Regions from separate parts of the Homo sapiens genome. Here all the other regions are linked to region 1. The links come from fine-mapping of genetic effects on gene expression. A gene starts in region 1. Each other region holds a variant in brackets. All regions are shown on one strand. Distances are between the middles of the regions. Region 1 holds the start of MIPEP (mitochondrial intermediate peptidase). Region 2 overlaps MIPEP (mitochondrial intermediate peptidase). Region 3 overlaps MIPEP (mitochondrial intermediate peptidase).

What was found.
Region 2: its variant is fine-mapped to the expression of MIPEP in aorta (GTEx, PIP above 0.99).
Region 3: its variant is fine-mapped to the expression of MIPEP in thyroid (GTEx, PIP above 0.99). The same link has a PIP of 0.9 or more in lung and visceral fat.

What each region holds. Positions count from the first base shown.
Region 1 is chr13:23,886,935-23,892,162 of GRCh38, reverse strand. It overlaps MIPEP (mitochondrial intermediate peptidase), which reads left to right and starts at 2,763. Exons shown (of 19, transcript NM_005932.4): 1 at 2,763-3,031. The coding sequence starts at 2,843. C1QTNF9B (C1q and TNF related 9B) reads left to right here. Exons shown (of 5, transcript NM_001007537.3): 5 at 102-1,064. The coding sequence ends at 874. It overlaps PCOTH (prostate and testis expressed opposite C1QTNF9B and MIPEP), which reads right to left and starts at 3,295. Exons shown (of 4, transcript NR_172510.1): 1 at 3,152-3,295; 2 at 2,121-2,163; 3 at 632-778; 4 at 60-550. RefSeq lists enhancers at 2,364-2,423, 2,483-2,983.
Region 2 is chr13:23,857,617-23,862,844 of GRCh38, reverse strand. MIPEP (mitochondrial intermediate peptidase) reads left to right here. Exons shown (of 19, transcript NM_005932.4): 9 at 483-543; 10 at 3,933-3,985. Among named protein-coding and RNA genes, the nearest start is that of PCOTH, 29 kb to the left of the region's middle. The variant C/G (reference allele first, on the strand shown) is at 2,033.
Region 3 is chr13:23,802,956-23,808,183 of GRCh38, reverse strand. It overlaps MIPEP (mitochondrial intermediate peptidase), which reads left to right. Exons shown (of 19, transcript NM_005932.4): 16 at 2,115-2,234. Among named protein-coding and RNA genes, the nearest start is that of PCOTH, 83 kb to the left of the region's middle. RefSeq lists an enhancer at 1,113-1,262. The variant A/G (reference allele first, on the strand shown) is at 3,103.

The DNA.
Region 1 (5,228 bases):
ACTACTTTGTTTCATTTGTGAGCTCAATTATAGAAAAACCAAAGTTGTTCACAAGGGAATCTTTCACAAACTATCTCTTTATTTGCTCTTTCTCTATTTAGGAGCAGATGGAAAAGTTGAAGCAAAAGGCATCAAAGGTGATCAAGGCTCAAGAGGATCCCCAGGAAAACATGGCCCCAAGGGGCTTGCAGGGCCCATGGGAGAGAAAGGCCTCCGAGGAGAGACTGGGCCTCAGGGGCAGAAGGGGAATAAGGGTGACGTGGGTCCCACTGGTCCTGAGGGGCCAAGGGGCAACATTGGGCCTTTGGGCCCAACTGGTTTACCGGGCCCCATGGGCCCTATTGGAAAGCCTGGTCCCAAGGGAGAAGCTGGACCCACGGGGCCCCAGGGTGAGCCAGGAGTCCGGGGAATAAGAGGCTGGAAAGGAGATCGAGGAGAGAAAGGGAAAATCGGTGAGACTCTAGTCTTGCCAAAAAGTGCTTTCACTGTGGGGCTCACGGTGCTGAGCAAGTTTCCTTCTTCAGATGTGCCCATTAAATTTGATAAGATCCTGTATAATGAATTCAACCATTATGATACAGCAGTGGGGAAATTCACGTGCCACATTGCTGGGGTCTATTACTTCACCTACCACATCACTGTTTTCTCCAGGAATGTTCAGGTGTCTTTGGTCAAAAACGGAGTAAAAATACTGCACACCAGAGATGCTTACGTGAGCTCTGAGGACCAGGCCTCTGGCAGCATTGTCCTGCAGCTGAAGCTCGGGGATGAGATGTGGCTGCAGGTGACAGGAGGAGAGAGGTTCAATGGCTTGTTTGCTGATGAGGACGATGACACAACTTTCACAGGGTTCCTTCTGTTCAGCAGCCAGTGACAGAGGAGAGTTTATAAATCTGCCAGACCATCCATCAGAATCAGCTTGGGATGAACTTATTCAGATGGTTTTACTTTATTAATTCCTCCAATTATTACAATAATCATAAAAAGGTGAAAACGGAAAAGTTATTCCCAAAACTGATTCTATGTAACTTACTATTTTTCCAGGAGTAAATATTTAAAATAGCTGCATGGTTTATTCTAATTTATTTCACATTTCTTATTCCTATTATCTGAAGAATCCTTTGTCTGTGCATTTCTTGTGGGAAGAGTGTTTTGATATCATTTTAGTGCTCTGAGGAGTCATATGAAGATGTATCCCTCATCTGTGTTTCTGAGGACATTAAGGGGAAATTAGAGGGAAATGTTTATTCCATTTAGTACTAGTAACAGCTTTAAGCTGGTGATGCTGTCACACTCCAGAAAGCTGTAGACACTGCTCATTTTGTCTTTTTTTAAAAAATGTATTTTTAAGTTCTGGAATACATATGCAGAACGTGCAGGTTTGTTACATAAAAATGTGCTGTGGTGGTTTGCTGCATCTGTCAACCCATCACCTATGCAGGTATTAAGCCCTGCATGCATTAGCTATTTGTCCTGGTGCTTTCCCTCCCATTTTGCTCATTTTCTAACCTAGGTTTTAATCACCATTCTATCCAACAAATCATTGTTTGATCATTATTTGCCAGACATGAATCTCTACTTGTTTTCTAGGATCGCCCTAATAAAGTACACAAACTGGGAGTCTTTAAACAACAGAAACGGACTTTCTCACAGTTCTGTAGGCTGGAAGTTTGAGATCACCGTAGCAGCAGGGCCATCCTCCCTCCAAAGGGGATACAGGAGGATGCAGCCTTGCTGCTTCCAGCTTCTGGCAGCTGGTGGCAGCATCACTCCAGTCCCCGCCTCCATCTTCAGGTGGCTGTCCTCCTCCTGTATCAGCCAAATTTTCCTCTTCTTACAAGAACAGCTTCCCTAATCTAGTATGACCCATCTTAATCATAATTGCAAACTCCATATTTTCAAATAAGGTCACATGTACAGGCACCGAGGGTTAGGACTTCAGCATCTATTTTGGGAGACACAGTTCAACCCAATCTGCCCTCTGGTTCCCAAAATTGATTTCCTTCTCATGTGCAAAATACATTTTCGCACCATGTCAACATTACCAAAAGTCTTAACACTTTCCGCATCAACTCCTCTCACCATCTACATCATTTAAATAAGCTACAGAGGAGACTTACTGTGTGATTCATCGTGTGGCAAAATGTCTCTCCATCTGTGATCCTGTGAAGCGAGACGAGTTAATCCACTTCTAAAAGACCGGGGGTTGGAGGGGGAGACAGGCATAGGGTAGACAATCCATTCCAAAAGAGAGAAAGGGGAAGGAAAAAAGGGTTCACGGGTCCCAGGCAATTCTGAAACCCTGGAGGGAAAATCCCATTAGACTTCTTTCACTATTTCCCATCTAAAATTTTTAACTGAGCTATGCAAGAGTAAAAAGTTACCGGACAGAGACACCAAACAGAGAAGTGCAGGATAAATTTACCAAGAGAGTAGGTTAAAAGGGAAACTTCTCCTTCAGGCCTATGGTGGGCATTTCTTGTTTACTCAAGTACCTGCCGTCTCTCAAAGAATATCTAATGTCCACTGGAATTCGAATATGTCATGATTTTACTCGCGCCCACCCCTAGTCAACTTGGGAGGGAAGCGCAACCCTAGCCTTTTCTTACTCTGGACACAGGGGGCGGTAAACCGGGAGGGCGGCCGAGAAGGCGAGGGGGAGCGACGCTCTTGCTCTCTGGACGACAACGTGCCCACGTCCTGAGGCCGCGCCCAGACCCGGAAGCGGGGCCGTCACGTGGGGCGGCGTGGGCTGCTGCCTTGGAAACGCGGAGCGCGCGCTCCCAGCGAAAGCAGCAGGGCAGGGATCTGCGTTGGAGGAAGGGACTGCTCTGGTGCTAGAATGCTGTGCGTCGGAAGGCTGGGCGGCTTGGGAGCCAGAGCAGCAGCTCTGCCGCCCCGCCGGGCGGGCCGGGGAAGCCTCGAAGCCGGGATCCGGGCCCGAAGGGTCAGCACCAGCTGGTCTCCCGTGGGCGCCGCCTTCAATGTCAAGCCCCAGGGCAGCCGCTTGGACCTGTTCGGCGAGCGCCGGGTGAGCGGCGCAGGAGGAGCTCCCCTCAGTCCCCGAGCTAAGCCGACCCCTGCTCCGCGCGGCCAGCAACAATCAGGGCGAGATTGTTTGGGCCTGGGAGGAGGCGAGCAGCGAACCCACCTTTTACAGTGGCGTCTTGTGTGCGCTCTCGATGAGGGCAAGGTCACCTCTGCTTTGAGGGGCCGGGTTTAGTGGTCTCCTACCCAGAGTGTCGGGTCCGGGAACTGCTTCTGCATGAGCCCCTTGCTCCACGTGAATCTGAATAGTTCGTTCTGGCAGTGGCGGTGAATTCGTCCTGCCAGGACCCGCCCTCTGCATACACTCAGGCGCACCCCTGCTAAAGCCCTTTAGCTCCAGCGCTACAGTCCTGCCTTAAGAGGCCTATCCCTGTGCGTTCACAGGCGGCATCACATGGTCTTTTTGCAAGGACACGGCTGCCTGCAGTCGAGTAATGGTAATTTCATTAATACCTGAAATTCCATCATCTATTAATTAATTTATTTCAAAGCTTTGGGCTTTCTTGTTTTAAAACACAAAACTCTGTTGAGACGAGTCTCACTTCCCATAGTGCCATGGAATTGGTCACTTTGATTTCTTACCCCAGGAAGTCACTAGCCTGCGTTGTCTAGTGAAAGGTGAGAGGAAGGCAAGGTTGGAAAGGACTTACCTGATGCCTGTTCTACTTGGAGTTTGTACATTTTGTCCGTTTTAGGTTAAGGATTACTTTTATTTTTGCCTTTTAAAATTTCGTTATACTGTATTGCCTTATAAAGACAAGTCTAGGGTATTGTTGCACTGAGCTAAAGTGTGTGATTCTTGTTTTATCTCCATTATCAGTTTTGTCTATTTAAAAATTATTTTGTGTGAAATTTGCTACACCACCTTCCTTAAGGGTATGTAGTGTTGGTATTAACATAGTTGGTGTGAAGAGACCTACTTGTAGGCGCTGAGCAGAAAGACGTGAGGGGAAGCCTGATTTTGGGTGGATGAGATATAACTAATTTTAGCTTTTATTTTTCCCTTTTTGTATCATGATATTCGGCACTGATAGCAGATTTTCAAATTTTAGAATTGATTTTTGCCTTGAAAAAAAAAAAGCCTTATTCAGTTTTTTAGCATTATGGTCACTGGTAATCCGATAGTTAGAATTCCCGAGAGCAATATGGGCAGGTTGTACTGGGAAGTGGAAGTAGTCTGTGCTTGAATCAAATTAAATCAGTATAAAGATGACATTTGTTTTTGGTCCTGATTTTCCTTTGTCTCCCACTGACTTTCTTTTATTTTATTTTTTATCTTGTAATATATTTTGAAGAGAGATTACTAGCTTAACTTCATCCATCCCTTCTTGTAGAAACAGTAGGGCTTGTCAGGCCTGAAGGTTTACCTGTTCGTATTTCTGAAAATCTATGCGTTAAGCACCTACAAAGTGAATTAACAAAGCCTAGCATCTGCTCCGGTCACTTGTTTCTTTCATTGAGTTCCCCCATGTGTTAGACATTCTATTGGATAGCTGGTTAAAGAAATGAAGGGCAGGGCTCTTGGGTCTGGAAGCTCACCTTTTCAGGAGAGAAGACTTTCAAACAGATAAATTGTAATAGAGAAGTATGGAAAAGTGTGGGCTTTACAGATGTACAGAGCGGGTTCGAGTTCTGTCTTTCCCAATATTAATTTGTGACCTCAAACAAGTTTTTTCTAACGTCTTAAAGCATGTGGCCTGATCTGTAAAAGAATGATACTCTGTTCTGTAGGATTGTGTGATTTAAATGAGAACCTATGTAAAGTAGCAGGCACACTTCATGGTATGCAGTAGGTGCATATTAAATGCTTTTTCCCCCTGCCTTCCTGAGTGTGCTAACAAGTGTGATTGAATAGGTAACAAGAGAATGGTCATTACCATTAGATCAGTGATTTTTGTTTTTATCAAGATATTGAAATGTCTTTGTAACGTATAAAATTTGCTCCCAGTTTCAGCCTATGATTTTAATATGTTCATTACATTTTTCTAAAATATCTATTGCTTCATAGTCAACTCATCCTCCCTATTTGATAGTTATAGAATAATTGGTACTATGTACTGAGATCTCACCTTGTCAGCTGCTGCTGTTAGTACTTTACATATACTTATTACCTGTATCCATGCTGTAAGGTATGTATCGTCATTCCCATTGTACATGATGAAAAAAATATTTCTCCTAGG
Region 2 (5,228 bases), 29 kb after region 1:
AATTCCAATATACATGTCATATTCTACAAATATTAAATACCTATTTAATTATTGACCAGCTAGAGTTTTTCCAAAGGGGAAAAATGACTAGAAATCTTAAATGTAGCCAATGATAAAATTCCTTTCTAGGAGTTAATTTGTTAAGTCTCTTTTAAAGGTATAGCAAAAAGTAGTGATTTAAAGTTAGTGATTAATGCTTTGCATATTTGTAATGACATTGCTAGTTTTTCCAAGCTTTAGTACTCTTGAGACATTTATCCACCATGATGCTTTTTAAGGTAGAAATCGCAGTAATATGCTGCTTTATATATTGTTATTTCTCATGACACTTAGGTAAAATTTGGATTAATAGTGATTTATGTGTGCACTACTAATTGTATCTAATCTTATGAATATTGGAATGTAACATAAGCAAACTAGTCCTTTCATAATGTAATTGTTAAAATTTTGTCCTAACAAGTAATGATAAACCTGTTTTATAGAACTCTGAAAGATTTTGAGATGATACGAGGGATGAAAATGAAACTGAATCCTCAAAATTCCGTAAGTATGTTGGAATATTTTTATTATAATATAGACAGTCTGTCAACTGAAATCAATATCTTTTGATTCAGGAACTTTCTTGTGATAGGCTACAGGTCCATTTAGTCTTGTTTCTGATCCTCGGTTTTGGTGAATAAAGATGTTGAAATATTTGATTCTTATGTCCCAAACTGATGTTGCCTGTACATACAGCATTTTTGTTGAGGAGTCGACATATTTTATGTATATACACTAACACAATGTGTATATATTCATGCAAAGACTGCTTTCATTCTGTGGAATGTTGGCTTCTCAGTTTGAAGCAGACTTTAAGGAGACTCAGTGGAGGCTTCATCTGGCAGGTGGCAATTTTAACCATCAGTGTTAATGTTGCAGTTCATTTGCTTATTTGTTAGCTAATTTATGGTGCCCAATTGAGTATTTGACTAACAAAGTATACCACATTCTAAAAACACTTAAGTGTTGTTTTCAATCATATGATTATATGATCTTCCTTATGTGATCCAAGAGTATAGACAAGTATTGTTATGGCCAGAATGCTGCCCAGGTGATTGGGGGAGTGCCCTGAAAAGTGTCGAGAGTCCAGATATTAGGACTCATTCCCATTTGGTTCTAGGGCACTACAGGATTGCCGGGGTTGTCTACACCATTCTTTTCCAAATGCTGTTATTAGTTCTTGACTTAGTTGCTGCTGCCAGAGCCATAGTCATAAGGAAGATTTAGGGAAATGGGCCTTGCAGATTTACAAACTGTTTACTAGCTTCCCAGATACAGCCACTAGGAAACAGATTAATCCCATTAAACTCAGCGATGTGTAGAGTAGCATGTCAGTCTGTTAATTTATGGAAGGAGCTGTGTCTAGCAAAGTAACTACTGTTAGTCATCTGCACAGTCATCTGCACACCTTGACCTGGTAGGTAGGCTTATTTGGGAAACCAGATAATAGGTAAGAATTTAGTTTGGTGACTATAGAAACAGAAAAATAAAAAACAAAATGTGTTGCCAAAAGCTAATTCAGTAAAAGTGAATATGACTTTAAACTGTTATCTGTAGATATTTGTATATAGCTTATGGATACAATTATTCTGCAGATATTTGTGAAATGCCCAATCTCCTCATGAAGTCCCTGCTTTGGTGAATGGTGCCACCATTCACCCTGCTGCTCTGGTCAGGACCTATACTTAATCCAGACCAGTGGTTCTCAAAGTGTGGTTCCTGGACCAGAAGCAGTAGCATCACATGGGAGCCTGTTAGAAATGCAAATTCTTGAGCCCCACCTCAGACCCACTGAATCAAAAACTGGGGTGAGCTCCACAATCTGTGTTTCAACAAGCACCCCAGGCACTGCACACTCCCCTCCCCCATAATCATTTGTTAGGTCCTGCAGATTCTCCCTCCCTGTGAACTCTTGTGTCTTCTCCTGTGCCCATTGCCATAGCCTGGGCTATGATCCCAATCATTATTCTCACCCAGATGGTAACTGGGATTG[C/G]CTAACTGGTTTCTAGCCTTTTGTTTTTGCTCCACTCGAAGCCGTCTTGGATTCAGACAGTTTAGCCATGTATTTAGCCCAGTGTTAGGCATAGAATTGGTTGTCAACACTTATTTGAACTATGAATGAATAATGAATGAATGAATTGCCACCAGAGGGATTTGTCTAAAAAGCAGATCTGATCTTGTCACTCTGTTGTTTAAAATTATTCAGTAGCTCCTGGTTATTCTCCAGTTTCCCTTCCTACTACCCTGCTGCTCCCGCCAAGCCCTCATGATTTGGCCCTTGCCTCCTTCTCTAGCTTCATCTTCTGCTGCCCCTCCAAGCCGAGGCTGTGTTCTTTGCTCTCTCCTAATACCTGTGTGATGCTCATGTGATCTCTATTCACTTAGTTTTGCTTTCTTTCCTTGCTTTGCTTTCTTTGATTCTTTAATTTGAATTAATATTTACGTGCCGGCCACATAAATATGGCATGGTGAGCAGCTTCCAGTCATTTACAAACACCACCTACAGGAATGCCTTTCTCCCTTTCTCATCTGGATTAACTGCTTCTATCATAAAACTCAATTCAGGCTTTGCCTTCTTGAGAACATTTCCTAACCTTCCGCTGTGATTTAAATACTCTTCTTGTGGGCTGTGTTTTACATGGCACAATGTAGACATGACATACTGTCCTCTGATTGTTGAGTCACTTGCCCTTCTACTGCCTAGGCTATCATCCTCTTGTTTTTGTCTGATTACAGCCTGCACTCTGTCTGCATCTAGCAGATAGCAAATAATCATCTGTTAGAGAAAATGTGTGCCAGGACCAGAACACTGTGGGGCTAGGGTTCCATGGACGCAGTCCCTGCCCTTCAGGCACTCATGAGGAGAAAGAAAATAAGCCTACAAGTATCTTAGGTTGTCATGCATCCCATGATATAAGTATTACCATGGAATATGGGAAATAACACCTTGTTATTGGAGGAGATTATGCCTAAACTGAAATGTTAAAGGATAATGGTAATAAGGAGAGTAGCCAACATTTGTTGAGCCCTTACTCAATGCCAGATATTCTACTTAATAGTTTAAGTACATTCAGCAGTCTTCTTTGGGAGGTACTGTTGATTCTTTCAACAAATATTTACTGAGTGACTACCCTGGGCCAGGTACTGTTCAGGGGACAGGAATGTAATAGGGAAGGATGCAAACAAAGTCCCTGTCATCATGCAGTTTATAGTCTGGTATGGATTGGAAACTTGAGCCCAGGCAGTCTGTCTTCACAGCCTGGTCTCTTAACCACTCTTTTGTCCACCTGGACACCTAGAAGGAAGGACAGTCATTCAAGTATTCAAGCTTTCCCTTCTTTCAGTATTATGTGCCAATCATCAAAAGCAACTAGTACTATAGTACTTCTTTATGACATATTTTCTTTGCCAAGATTAGAGTTAATTCTGCCTTGGTTACATTTTAAATTGCTGCTTTCATTTTTGATATCTACCCAAAGCTTCTTGCTTAGATTTAGAAAGAACCTTAATCCTACCTTTAGTACACTCATCTTACCTACAGTGTGTTTTATGGATTAATACATGGGTTACATTTTGGGAAAAATTTCATTATGGCTAATATAATTCGTTAATGTTTACTTTTGTTAGATACCACTTCAGAATGACATTTGTTTGTCTTTTCCCCAGATTCTGGGGTAGGTCTTAGTTATACTTCACTATCTCTTGATTACAGGGAAGTCAAAATAAGGAGCCAGGTATTTTCTGCCAAGCTATCAATTTTTTAAGGGATTCTATAAAATTGTTCTGATTTACATGAACAGTAGCTGGTTTACATTCTATAGGCTGGCCACGTTGCTGATAAAAACTATGAAAGAGTCAGTAGCTTTCCTTAACAGTGAATTATTCCATTGTAGGAAGTAATGCCCTGGGACCCCCCTTACTACAGTGGTGTGATTCGTGCAGAAAGGTAAGTTTTTCAAGAAATACCCGTACAGGAAAAGGAAAAAGGAAACTAATGTTTATTCAGCAGCTACTGTCATCCACTGAGTCGCCCACAGTACAAACCCTTCCCCTGACACCATTCTTTCTGCTGGCGTGGTCTGCTCCACTCATGTATTCTTCAGCTGCTTGTATCATTTCCTTGTTTAAAATTCTACAATCTGGTCCCTCTCCAGCTCTGCCCTTGCGTAGCTTTCTGGTTCTCTTCCTAGGCTGTGAGCATTGCTGGAATCCTTGTTGTATCCCATTGCTGGCCCAGAGTAGGGGCTCAGCATGTGTTTACTGAACCAGTAAAGGAATAAAGTGGTACATGGCGTGGTACTACGTTATTTTCCTTTTTTTTTTTTTTTTTTTTTTGAGGCGGAGTCTTGCTCTCTCCCAGGCTGGAGTGCAGTGGCGCTCTTATGTTTTCTCATTTTTATTTGGACACATATATTGTCAACACATTATTGGTCCATCTGGAAGGATATAAATGAAATAAAGATTTAAGGAACTTAAGTTGACAGAAGTACTCCTCTGGCTTCTATATCCTCCTGTGTTTATTATATTGGAGAAAAGTAGGTATGCCCTTCTCTCCCTACAGACACACTATTTCTGTAATTTTTATGTTATAAACCCAAGAAATAGAGCTCTTTTCACAGTGAACACACTTTAAAATGTTTATAGCTGAAGCAACTTTATATACCCAATAGGAATTTTTAAAAAAAAATCTCAGAATCCTACTCTTTAACAACTTATTAACATTTTTCCCTTGTAGTTAGTTTTTGAGATATGCTGTTTAAGTAGGAGAGTTAAGGTTGATTTAGGTAATAGAAGAAAATGTAAGTTTTTTGTTTTTTTTTCCTCATTAAAGCATACCAGCATGTACTGTGATGATACGTGTATTTATTTGGTATTAAGCTTTAAAATATTTTTATTACTATGCATTATTGAAGCATCAAGTAAAGCATAGTAGGTACTTCTCCAAAATAAGAAGTATTTGCTTAATTATTTATTTCAGCATTTGTCATAAAAACAGAAAACAATAACTTTCTATATTCTTTTCTATACCAGCAGGATGAGGTAGCCTAAGATCAATTAGTGTTTTGAAGCACTTACTCACTTAATTTTCATTTATTTTCCTCTCTTTGGTCTCCATCTATCACTGTTGCCAAAACCATTTTTACTTACAAGGCATAATTGTGTCCTAACCTTTAGTTAAGAATATTTGG
Region 3 (5,228 bases), 84 kb after region 1:
GAGCTTGCAGTGAGCCGAGATCGCGCCACTGCACTCCAGCCTGGGCGACAGGGCGAGACTCTGTCTCAAAAAAAAAACAAAAAAAAAACACTGTTTTTAAAACTGTACATTTTTTAAAATTATTGTTTTAAAAATAGGCTCTTCATTTTTCTGTGACTTAATAAGTTTCTTGGCCCCAGGAATGCATGACTCCCTGGGTAGGCAGATAGGCTCATGTCTTTGGAATTGTTTAGTTTATCAGCAAATAAGCATAAAAAGAATGCACATTTAATTTATTTTGCTCTGTTTTCATATTTAATTTATTTTGCTCTGTTTTTATAATTCAAAAAAGTTACCCCATGTTTATATCATTTTGTAAAAGGCATAATTGAAGAAATGAAACTCTTGAATTCTGATTTATTTATACATTGGGGCAAAATAACACCTCAGTTGAGGTTAGAATGTAAGAGTTTCAGTTCCTGATAATTTACTCTGTTAGAATATAGGTAAGACATTGAGTAATTTTGGCCTCCCTGATTATCTTTATGCATCGTTACTCATTATAAAATGTAGAATTGAAAGAGCTATATTTAGCTATATGTTTAGATTACCAGTTAGAAGAAAGCAATATTTATATTTAGGAAATGTCTGTATTTTTCTAGGGAAGGTTTAAACTTAACTTTATAATTTAGAACCATAATTCTATATCTAGATGCAGCCAGAAGCCAGAGGTCATTTAAATTTTCTCTTTTAACCAAACTAATCCTCACTTCTTTCAAGTCAACAGCTGCACATTCTCTACAAATCCCATTTCTGAATCACAAAGATACATATCAGAAGCATAATTGCGTGTCAAAATTTGTCCTTTAAAATAAAGCATTTTCTACTTGCCTGCATGAAGTCAAATGTTCAAGTCAGTGTTGAAAAACAATATTTGAGTCAGATGTTGCAGTGAAAAAATGCTTTATGTTTATTTTAGATTTCTTTGCAAAATTTAGTTTTCAGTACTTTGTAAACAGCAGATTTCATGTCCAAACTTTCTTTAATGCTTTCTTCTCCCACTGTGTTTCAGTGGCCTATATCCTCTACTCAGAGGAGAGTGCTCCTTTTCCCCTGGTCATCTAGTTGAGCCCTCCCTATACAGCAGCTGCTTCCTTTGTACTTCCTGACACCAGGTGTGGGAGTCTAGTTCCAACCTCTCCAACAGCTGCATCAGAATTCTTCGATACATCTATACTCACGAGATGCTGCATTGCTATTTCTTTCTCTACCCCCACCACACCTATTTAATTTTCTTTCACCTTTTATCACAAAACTAGAATTCTGACCGTTTCATTTCTCTCATTTAAGATATATCAGGATTCCAGGAGGAAACCAAACAACATTTGTTAGATCCAGCGGGTCTAAAGTTGTAACTGGTTTTGTATATTTCTGCCTACAGATAGATAGATAGATAGATAGATAGATAGATAGATAGATAGATAGATATAGATTTTTTTGTTGTTGTTGTTGTTTTTTGTTTGGTTTTTTTTTTTGAGACGGAGTCTCTCCCAGGCTGGAGTGCAGTGGAGCAATCTCGGCTCACTGCGAGCTCCGCCTCCCAGGTTCACGCCATTCTCCTGCCTCAGCCTCCCGAGTAGCTGGGACTAGAGGTGCCTGCCACCACGCCTGTCTAATTTTTTTGTATTTTTAGTAGAAACGGGATTTCACTATGTTAGCCAGGATGGTCTTGATCTCCTGACCTCGTGATCCTCCCGCCTCGGCCTCCCAAAGTGCTGGGATTACAGGCGTGAGCCACCGCGCCTGGCCTTCCGTCTACATATATTTTGGCAAAATTCCAGTTTTGTGTCACATATTTGATTTGCTGCCATTGTACATAAAGAGTATCTTATGGGTATGGTTCAAAATTCTTTAATATTCTTATTTATGAAAAGGTTGAGAGCATTCCTTTTAATCTTTAGCATGGTCTTAAATGTGGTATGAAATACATTTCAAACCATGTAAGTTTATTTTTGTGACTGTTTTCAACTGTGATTGGTAACTGTTGTTCTGGTGCACTTATAGCATCTTTGGTCAACCACATCTTGATGTGAGGATGGACGACCAAAACTAAGTAGATGTTTTTATCTATCTAGGTCTTTTATGCCACTCTGGATCAAATCTACCATGGGAAGCATCCCCTGAGGAATTCAACCACAGACATTCTCAAGGAAACACAAGAGAAATTCTATGGCCTACCATATGTTCCAAATACTGTGAGTCCAGCATTTGGCTTCTGTTTTGTGTATTGAGTGGTTCTGCTATTACTTCTGTAGCTTGTGATTATCTTCCCCTTTGGAGAACTTGAAATCCCTACATTTATGTTGAGGCTTCACATGGCTCAAATGCTGGAAATTGCCTGGTTCATTTAATATTTCCAACTACCCATTTATATGTTCTTATTTTCCTCCCTCTAACAGTGTTTTTGTACCTTTTTGGAAATGTGGGGGTTAAAAAGGCCATTGGAGTTGGTCTATATTCTTCTTTTTAGTTATTTTTCTACAATGTGAAAAATAGTGATGTAAGATGAATGTGATTACCAGTCCTGAATCATTTTCATTGCAAAGAGAATTAACATGTATTGAGTATCTTACATTGTACCAGGAATTATAATAGATGCTTTACATATCTTATCTTGTTGAGTACCATGTCAGGAGAGAGAGCAGGAGTAATGTTACCATTTATTGGATTCTAGGCGCCAGACTCTATCTAATTCCTTTGGGAAAAGATCTCTAATTTAGCTCTCAAAATAACCTTATAAATTAAATTATATCCTTGTATTTGGGGCTCATTTGGAGGCACAGACACATTATATGTCCTGTCTGAGATCATCTAGGTAGTTAAGTGATTGTATGGGGGTTCAAAACAAACAGGCTTTTTTCATCACTCAAAGGCTCGTGTAAGGAGCAGTTGAGCACCGTGACTCCTAGTGCAATTAACAGTGTGATTCTTGGTGCAGTTAGCAATGTGACTGACTTAATGTTACCCAGGCCTTTCTCAGCTGCAAGTGATAGAAACGTGGTTCACACGGACTTAAACAGAAAAGGGAATTTATTGAGTCTTGTAACTGAAAGGTGCAGGGGT[A/G]TAGGGGTGTTTCAAGTAAGTTGGATTTAGGTCTCCCACAATGTCGTTAGAAATGTTTCTCTCTCTTTCTGCCTCTCAGCTCGGTGTTTTTCTGGGTTCCTTTCATTCTCTGGCAATCCCCCCAGACTGAATGGTTTGATAACTACCGGTAGGTTCAGGTCGATGTCCTTCTAGCCTAGTTGGTCTAACAGAAGGAGAGCTAACTTGAAAGTGTTTTGTAAACTATAAAAAGCAGAATAAATGTCAAGTGGTTTTATTTGCTCTAAGATTGGATAGCAGAATATGTTGTGCTAAGAGATTAAGTTAATCAATAAACTACAATTGTCCACTAAATCTTCAGGTCCTAATGCTCAAATATGCATGGGAAGAGATCGTATTTACCAGACAAGTGAAGCAACAGGATATTTTATCTTCATAATACCTCTTGTCATTAGTTTTCGATTGGCTTAGAACCTTAATTATCTGCTACAGGTATATAATGTCAGTCATACTAACTAATTTTTTAATCTTACATGTAATTTACTATTCTAATACTTTCTACTGCCAAGCTCTTGATTATCTGTGTTAGTGAAAATTTATAGTGATAAGAATAATCTAACTATTTATTCATGGAATAAATAATAACAATTGCCTAGATTTTACTAGCATTTTCCAGTTCACAGAGCATTGCCTGATTCACCTGCTTTTGGGCTTGTATGTTTTTGTTCTCATCTTATATTCTTCTTTGTGAATATGAGTTAAACTTCATGACCAGTAAGTAGTAAAGTCCTAGGAAGACTAACATTAGGAGAACTGGGATGCTTGCCAAAGCTACAAAACTTCAGTTTGACTGAGTTGCTTGCCTTCTGCCCTTTTTTATCGTAGGTCTAATAATAAAGTAATTATGTCTCTTTTTAAAAGAAAACTTCCTTACCATCCAGATTTCTTCTCTGTAATCATTTAACATACAAATATGAAGTATTAGTGGCAACCAAATTCTGAATCAACAATCCATAAATCACTTTTAATTTGAAAGGAAGGGTGATGCTAAGTCCGTGTGCCTTGTCCTAATTCCTTTTGAGAAAATAGAAAGATGTATCTCTTTACTGGGATTAGCTCCACAATTCACGTTCAGTAGCCATCACTTGCTCTTTGTGTAAATTGTTTTAAGAGGTCTTTAAAAGAAGCATAGCTATGTTTAGAGAAAAAAAGACATTATTTTAAGGCTTGCCTTTAAAAAAAAGTGTCTGAGAGTTTGTTTAGATTTGTACAGATAGCCTACTCTTCCTACTTAGAAACTTCTGCATTTCTTCATTTGTTTGTCAATGCATTCATCAAGCCTATAACATTCCCGACATCAAGTTGGTGGACTTGACCACCAACTTGAATTCAAATAAAGCTGTAGGAATTAAGACAGTCTAACACTGGTGTAGGGATGCACAGATATCAGTGAAACAGGAGCAAGAGCCCAACGGCAGACTCAGCAAATTAATAGACTCTCAAATATAGGTTGAGTGACACTGTAGATTATTGGATGAAGAAGGAACAATTTTTTAAAGTGGTGTTGTAGTGATTGATCTCTATATGGAAAAAAAAATGCAGCCCTGTATCACACTGCACACAAAAAATAGAGTTAAAGACCGAGATGTGAAAAGTAAAGCTTTAAATTTTAGAAGATAATACAAAAGAATTTTTTCTTTTTGATAGTGTTTTTGTTGTTGTTGTTGTTGTTGTTGTTTTGAGATGGAGTCTTGCTTTGACTCCTAGTCTGGAGTGCAGTGGCGCAGTATTGGCTCACTGCAACCTCTGCCTCCTGGGTTCAAGCAATTCTCCTTCCTCAGCCTCCTGAGTAGCTGGGATTACAGGTGTGCGCCACCACTCCTGGCTAACTTTTGTTTTTTTAGTAGAGACGGGGTTTCACCATGTTGGCCAGGCTGGTCTCGAACTCCCAACCTCAGATAATCCACCTGTCTTGGCCTCCCAAGGCTGAGGATTACAGGCATGAGCCACCGCGCCTGGCCATGATAGTGTTTTTTATACCCACTCTGAGTATCTTATATTTTATACAGATGCTTCTCAACTTATGATGCGGTCAAGTCCCAATAACCCATTGTAAGTTGAAACTATCATAAGTCAAAAATACATTT